Homo sapiens: one gene and its partner. The protein of the gene in region 1 purifies or fractionates together with the protein of each later gene. This does not show direct contact. Each region holds a gene or a part of one and is shown on either strand. Other genes may lie near its edges.

Region 1 (3,907 bases):
GGGTGATGGAAGCTGGGGGGAAATAACAGAAAGGCTCCTCCCCCTAATACACCATAACAGATTCCAGCTTCCCTCCCTCCGGCTCTAAGCAGAAAGGAAAGAACTGGTAAGAGAATTAGGTAGAGGGACACAGAGATAATCTAGGGTGGCGAAGAGGGGAGAAAGAGAAGAGATGGAACATGCAAAGGCCAGGAGCGAAGCGGGAGACCACCCAGGAGACAGAAGGAGGGCAGAGGCTGGGAGAAGAACAGGAACAGACAGGATGGGGTCCTGATTGTTGGAAAAGACAGGGAGGCCAATCCCAGCCTTGCAAATAGCAGCAGCTAGAGGTTATTTCCAGAAAAATCTGCAAAGTAAATACACTGATCACCCAACTCCCATATCTCTTTGCTGCTCTCTGTGGAAGACTCAGACAAACCCCAAGAATGAATGGCCACGGGGCCAGGGCAATGGTGGAAAGGGAGGGGCCTCACCTGGCCTTGGGCCAAACAGCAAGGTGGCCTCTGCCCAGCCAGGTGAGGTGTTTGCCACCCACCCCCTGACCAGGTCTGTCTTGTCACCACACAAATAGCCCAGACACCACAGCTGGATGTTGTCACAACATCCCCAGGTGGAAAGAGCCTGGGGCAGAGAATGTTCCAGACCCAGGAGGGGTCTACTTCCAGCACCACATTGGCACCAACCTCCTTTGCCCACCCTGGCCCCAGTGGGCATTCCCCTCACATCCAACAAACTCCAGTCCCCGGCAGTGGTGGCTCCTCTCCCGCCACGCTTCTTCTCATTGCTAATGCGGGACTCTTGTTCAGACAGGGACGGGCTCTGCCCTGTCTCTGGCCAATGGCAGCATTATCACTGGCCCAGGCAGTCCAGCCCAGCAGAGCCAGGTCAAGGATCAGTCATGTTGACTGACCTGCAACCCCTCAAAGTGGCCTGAAGCAAAACCACAGGCGCCGTTTTCTCTTTCGTTCAAATGCAGTTCTTTTCCAACATTGCCTGCAATGAGCTTTGGTGCAGAGATTTGGGGACAGGGAGGCACATGGAGAAAAAAAAAAAAAAAAAAAGACCAGGCAATTGCACAAAGCCTTTCCCTGGAAAACCCAGGCTCTGGGGATGGTGGGGGTCAGGACACATGGCTGCCCCCCCTCCAGCCCTGGAGCTCCGGCTTTGATGGTCGAGGCACAGATGGGGATTCATCCCATTCCCCACATACGAGAGCAGTCTGGGAGCGGGAGATCGGCTGGGTGTGTGTATATATGTATGTATGTGCATATAGATAGATCTATTTATATATAATAGGCTATATTAGAAAATCCTCTCTATGTATAAATATAAAACACTGGTATCCAAACATGACACCAACAGCTAACTAAAGTGCTTGACAGGAGCCGGGCCCGGGTAAGCTCGATGGTAAACCGCTCATCCTGGGCGCTGGGGAAGCAAAACAATGGGGGACCCCTTCAGCAGGGGGTGCTGCAGGAGGAAAGTGTGTGCTGGCCAAGCTGGGCCACCAAGAGCACTTGGGCCACCTGGGCCTTCTGGGTCTCAGGACTGTCTGGTCACTGCCCCATCAACACTGTGCCTCATCTTTCCCCTACCTTCCCCACTGCGCTCCCGTCCATGAGGAGCACAGCGCTGGCGAGCTAGGCCCAGGGAAGAGCTGTTCCACAGGGGACTGATCATTTGAAAAAAATCCCTCCCCCTCAACCATCACTCCTCCAGGTCAGGCCCTGCCCGCACTCCTCCTGGGCTTCCTGCCTGGGTGGGGGTGGGACGAGGGAGGGGAGAGAGGCTTTGTGGAATCTGAGGGCAGCCACCTTTCACCTGTAGGCCCCAAGCAAAGCATTAGCACCTCCACCATCCCCAAGGCCCATAGAAATGCCCACAGGCAAGTGGTCACCAGAGCTCTAGGGAGCAGAGGGGCCCCAGAAGGCAGGGAAGAGGCCCCCCAAAAACACAGTGCTACAAGAAGGGGTTGGTGGTTGGAGGTTTGGAGGCGAATGGGCTTGATGAGGGTCCAGTCTGGAAAGAAAGAACAATACATTTTCCAGTTAGGGGAGAGGAACTGGAAGCTTAGAAGAAAGGCAGCCAGGAGTCCTTTCTCCTGAAAAATCGCTATGCTGAGGGCAGTGGGAAAGTGAGGGAGAAAAGGCCAGGCACGGTAGCTCATGCCTGTAATCCCAGCCCTTTGGCAGGCCAAGGTGGGCTGATCACCTGAGGTCAGGAGTTCAAGACCAGCCTGGCCAACACGGGAAAACCCTATCTCTACTAAAAATACAAAAATTAGCCATGTGCGGTGGTGCACACCTGTAGTCCCTGCTACTTGGGAGGCTGAGGCAGGAGAATTGCTTGAACTCAGGAGGTAGAGGTTGCGGTGAGCTGAGATTGGGCCTGGGAGACAGAGTGAGGCTGTCTCAAAAAAAAAAAAAAAAGGAAAGTGAGGGAGAAGGGAGCCAAGGGCAGGGCTGGAACAGCATGGGAGATGCCAGTGCCCAGAAGAGCTGAGGCCCAAGCTCAGCCCTGGCTTGGACAACGCAGACCTTCACGAGGAAGGGGCACAGGGGCCACCTCACATCAGCCTCTTCTGGAAGGATTGTCCCAGAGGGAAAGCCCACGAGCCCTACCACAGCACCCCTGCTGGCACACTCACCATGAAGGGGTTGGTGGAGATCCCAGCTGGCTGGCTCAGTGGCCTCTGCCCCAACTTGGCTGATCCTAAGTCCCCGAAGGAAGAGCCTAGGGGGCGAGAGCAGTCACTCAGCTGACACCAGCCTGCCTTCCTGCAGGCGGACAGCAAGGGGGGCCCTCCTAAACTGGGGGAGTAAGGGAACAGAGCAGTGGAAGTACCCGGGCGGGTCTGGTGCTTCCCTGGTCCCCCCTGCTGGTCAGAAAGGGCACTGCATGGGCTCTGATGAGGTCGGAGGAACAACTAACTGATCTCTATGCAGAGATGGGATGGGGTGAAAGGGTTTGTCCATCTACAGCTCTTACCATTCTGCTGCTGAACAAGCGGGGTCTGCGGGGGGAACAGCGGTGCTGGGAAGGAGCTGGCAAAGGCCCCAGTGGGTGGCACTGCCTGGGGGAAGCCAGGCCCAGCACTGCTCATCCCAAAGCCGGGCCCTATGGAGTGAAAGACGGGAGGCTCAGGTGAACTTCTGGAAGGTGGGCTGGAGAACTGTTTTTCCTAAGTCCCTCCAAGATGGGAAAATGGGATATAGTTTTTTCCTGACATGAGGAACGAGGGACCCAGCCATGGAACTCTTCTGCTTCTCACACCACCAAACAACCCTGCCCTCTCCCTGCCCGGGGGTACGTGGCAGGGAGGGCATGGTAGTTCCAGGCACGGGCGCGGTGCAGGACTGGGCTAGCCTCCCACTAAACTGCAAAAACAGCACAAACTTCTAACGCTGTCTGTGCTTCAGTTCTCATCTCTAAAATGGGGACAGTCCGTCTCATAGGGCTACTGTGAAGATCAAATCAGGGCCACGAAGCCCTCAGCACTGGGCCCACCACACAGCTCTTCTGTGTTTGCTCTTATTCCTCTCTCCCCAGCCTCAAGGCTTCAGCCAGCATGAGTCTGAGGGGAGAGCAGCAGAGGCTGGGGAGGGCCAGGGTGAGAGAAGACAACAGGCCTGGAGTTGATGGAAGCAGGGAACAGCGTGAGTGTTTCAGGTGGCTTAAGCTTCGGGACACAGAAGGGACTGGGGCTGGGTGCCCAAAGGGACACTGCTGAGGGCTGGAGACAGGAGAATCGCTGCCACTGTCAGTCAACTCTAAAACAGTCTTCAGTGCGGTCTCCGGTAAGTAGCCACCTGTGTGCTTCTAATTCTAAAATCTGGCTCTGTGACCTGGGTGCTAGGTGGCCTGGCACCGTGTGGGCAGGGGAAGAACCAGGCTGTCTGCTTCTCCT
Region 2 (3,907 bases), on another chromosome or scaffold:
CTGGAAACTACAGTCTCAGAACTACAGATTAACAAACGTAATCAATGGTACTGGGCTTTTCACAGTTTTGATGACGACAGCATGACTTCAGAGTCTAATGGGACACTATTCCCAAAGTTCTAGTTAACGTCGCAAAAATCTGACCTAATTCTTACAGGTTCAAATGTCTGGGCTGCTGGTTTGTGTAACCTGGACAAAATCGCTTCCAGGCTCTCAATTTTGCCACGAGTCACGATGACAGAGGGCTCTCCTGGCTTTTCTCACAGGCCTGAGTCCCATCTGGATTGAAGTCATTTTGCAAATAGCAGCCCACCACCCTTAGGCCAAATTTAAAATTTGTTTTGAATTTGCACCTTTCTGGTTGTGTTAAAGATTACAGATTACATGAACAAGGGCCTCCATGCCTTCGCTATCTAATTGATTTCTACAGTGTTGTTTCTTTACTGTCTTGCTCGCCCCACTCAAAGTCTCCCTCCTACACACCAGCCTACACACTTTCAGTTCTATTTTATAACCCGACAAATGCAAATTGACACACAGAGACAAATAACAACGCGGTTTGCTGAAGCAGGTTCAATCGACTGTATTGCCAATTAAAAGACCACCGGGTAAACAAGGGCCAACGACCACAGGGCAGGCCCCAGGGTTCACAAGCCCCCCCACCCCACGGCCCAGAAAGAGCTCGCCGCAGCGCCCACCTCTGCAACTCCTCCTCCTGGATCCTCTCCTCGTCCCAAACGAAGACGCCGGCTAACGCCGCCATCAAGGCAGAGGCATGGCCAGGACGGCCGTGCAGCCGGCGCCAGAGGCGGCCGAGGAGAACGCGGCGTGAGCTCTCGGAGTAGAGGCGGCCGTAGAGCTGCGCGATCTGCTGCGCGCGCCGCACGCGCAGGCCCGTGACGAAGCGGCACTGATTGGCCAGAAGCGCCAGCAGGCCCCCGCCCCGCGTCCCCGCCAGCCAGGCGGCCAGCAGCCTCCGCGGGAGCATGCCGCCTCCCGCAGGGCCCGCCGCGAGCTTCCGGGGCCCAAGGAACCAGTCCGGAGGGGCGCAGGCGGTGGTCGCAGCGTCCCCCTAAATGGCCGGCCACGAACCCGTCTCACGGTCCCGCGGCCAGGAGCCGCCGCTCATCTGTCTCTGCAGCCACCGCTGAGGAAGAGTCTCCTCTGAGGGGAGAGTCGGTCATGGCAGCAGACGCCGGGATGGCTCCGCGACTGCTACACCAGGCACTCCTGGGCCCGGGCAGCAGACCAGTCAGCCCTGTGGCTCCTCGGCGACCTCCAGCGGGCGCCCGGGGCCGGGATGCAGGGCGCGCGGACAGAAACGAGACAGACAGCTCAGGCCCAGCAGCACGCAAGCTCCCGCGCCTTCCGCGACTGCCACACGCGCGGCGCGCGCGCACCCTACTTTTTCTCCGCCACCTGGGCCGTGATTGGGCGCGACCTGGGCTCCTGGGTGCTCATTGGCGCCGTGAAGTGCTCGTCACCGCCCCCTCCTGCCCCTTCATGCATGCGCGGAGGCCGCCTGCTAGCAAGGTAGGTGGCTCGGCGGCGAGAGCCGTCAAGGGCGCATTGGAGAGTGACCCTCGGACCCGGCTGCCGCCGTCGCCGCCATCTTCCGGCCGTCCCAGCCCCGCCCCGCGGAGAAACCTGGCCAGGTTCCTGTTAGAATCCTGCCAGGTGTTAACTTGTTTTAAGAGGCCGGCACGCTGGCCCCCTTCTTTATTAGAGTGCAGGGTGGGGGCGGGGCTCCGCATGTCTCTGCGGGGGCTGGGGGCTCCCAGTGATAACCGCCATTGCAGAATTAAAACTGAGACAGTGAAAGAGATCTGACCTAACCAATTCCATCTTGCTTCTGTCCTTGTTCATTCCTGAGCTTAGGTGAACTAATTTTGGGAGGAACTTAGTTTATAGTTTAAAATAAAGAGGATAACAGCCCTTTCCCAAAACAAATCTTCTTATCTGGGAACTAGACTGCCTTTGTAGGACTAATAAGTTAGCCATAAGATTGGAAATTATGGTTTAGGAGTCATGCAGCTGGAGGCTACGATATTGTGATCCCCCTAAACTGCTCTTAAGATCAGTGCTTGAGATATTTTGCTGACCCCGCACTGGTTGGATCCTGGCACCACCCAGATGGATAAACTGGCTCATCTGACCTTGTGGCCCCCACCCAGGAACCAACTCAGTGCAAGAGGACAGCTTCAATTCCCTATTATTTCATCTCGACCCAACCAGTCAACACTCTGGACTCACTGGCCTTCCCCCACCCACCAAATTATCCTTAAACACTCTGATCCCGGAATGCTAAGGGAGACTGATTGAGTAATGTTGAAACAAACTCCAGTCTCATAGTGGGCTCTGCGTGAATTACTCTTTATTGCAGTTCCCCTGTCTTGATAAATCGGCTCTGTCTAGGCAGTGGGCAAGGTGAACCCATTGTACGGTTACAAATTTGGGGGTTCGTCTGGGATACCCCTTGTGGCTACCTGTCCATGGTTCGGTAGCCCCACCTCTGGTGACAGATCCAGAGGCCAGCCTAAGCGGCCACATAGTTCTCTTGGACTAGGGGCTAACTCTGGCACCGTCTCTGCCAGTGGGGCACTGCTAGCCCAATATGCATGGACTTAATCGCAATGGAGAAATAGTCCTGGGGAGACATCCCATAACTGTAGCCCTGTCACAGGGTATCTGTAGCTCCATAGCGGGGCGCTGTAGCCAGGTCATGGAGTGTCTGTAGCTATAGCCCCATCATGGGGTGGCAGGTTGCTGAGTATCCTAGGTGCTGCCAGTGCCTCCTTCCTTCTCCGGACTGATTCTGTAGCCACATGGTGGGTGTCTGTAGCTCCACCATGGGGTGTCTGTCTCAGTTTGGCTCCTGGGGCATCCCAGTTGGCTGTCCCTAACTAGGAAGAGTCTTGGTTCGGGAGACTTCTCAATCAGGAATATTTCAGGGAGATTTGTCAGATGGAGAATAGGAGGATAGTTTGGAAGGGGTACTCTTGGAGTTCTTGGTTAGGGACCTTAATTTGGAAGGCCTTCTGTCTGTCTTGTCTTCGTGTGTGTGTTTGTATATATGGAGGGGATCTCTGAAGGAATTGCTGATGAAAATCCAGCAGGCCTAACTTGGAGAACACTCCTTATTTATCTAGTCACATTCAGTGAGCCCTGAAAGAAGTTTAACAGGCCTGATTCAGGGTGACTGCTCAGAGACCACCCATTGAATTCACGATTCAATGACCCACCGTGCCTGGCCTTAAAAGGATTTTTTCTTAGAAAAAAGAGCTCTAGGCCGGGCATGGTGGCTCACACTTTTAATCCCAGCACTTTGGGAGGCCAAGGCGGGCGGATCACGAGGTCAGAAGATCCAGACCATCCTGGCTAACACGGTGAAACCTCGTCTCTACTAAAAATACAAAAAATTAGCCGGGCGTGGTAGTGGGCACCTGTAATCCTAGCTACTCGGGAGGCTGAGGCAGGAGAATGGCGTGAACCCGGGAGGTGGAGCTTGCAGCAGTGAGCCGAGATCGCGCCACTACACTCCACCCTGGGCGACAGAGCGAGACTCCGTCTCAAAAAAAAAAAAAACAAAGTTGACTTATAGAGCCAATAAGCCAAAAAATTGACTTATAGAGCCCCTTGGGAAATCTGGCCTCATACTATGTCAACACAGTCCCTGTACGAGGTTCCTGACCTGTGGTAAGTAAAGAATGTCACTTTCTAACAGGCTCAGGAGACCTAAGTTATCTTGACACCTCAAGAGGAGAGGAATTTACCCAACTCATAGGTATTCGAGGGTACAAACCCATGGCTGGGCTTGGCTTTAAAAAGGTCTTATCTAAGATTTCTTATGGAACAGAGTTCCATCAAAGCCAATTTTAAAAGCCTATGTGAAGGCCAGGCGCAGTGG

The links.
Region 2: the proteins of AGFG2 (region 1) and STARD7 purify together in Homo sapiens (affinity purification with mass spectrometry; 2 studies listed by BioGRID and IntAct, with this or other methods). This does not show direct contact.

What each region holds. Positions count from the first base shown.
Region 1 is NC_000007.14:100,563,044-100,566,950, reverse strand, and holds part of AGFG2 (arf-GAP domain and FG repeat-containing protein 2), read right to left. Parts: intron 3,118-3,907; coding exon 2,989-3,117; intron 2,734-2,988; coding exon 2,648-2,733; intron 2,020-2,647; coding exon 1,960-2,019; 3' UTR 1-1,959.
Region 2 is NC_000002.12:96,207,447-96,211,353, forward strand, and holds the start of STARD7 (stAR-related lipid transfer protein 7, mitochondrial isoform 1 precursor), read right to left. Parts: upstream 1,382-3,907; 5' UTR 989-1,381; coding exon 699-988; intron 1-698. UniProt on the Homo sapiens protein: May play a protective role in mucosal tissues by preventing exaggerated allergic responses.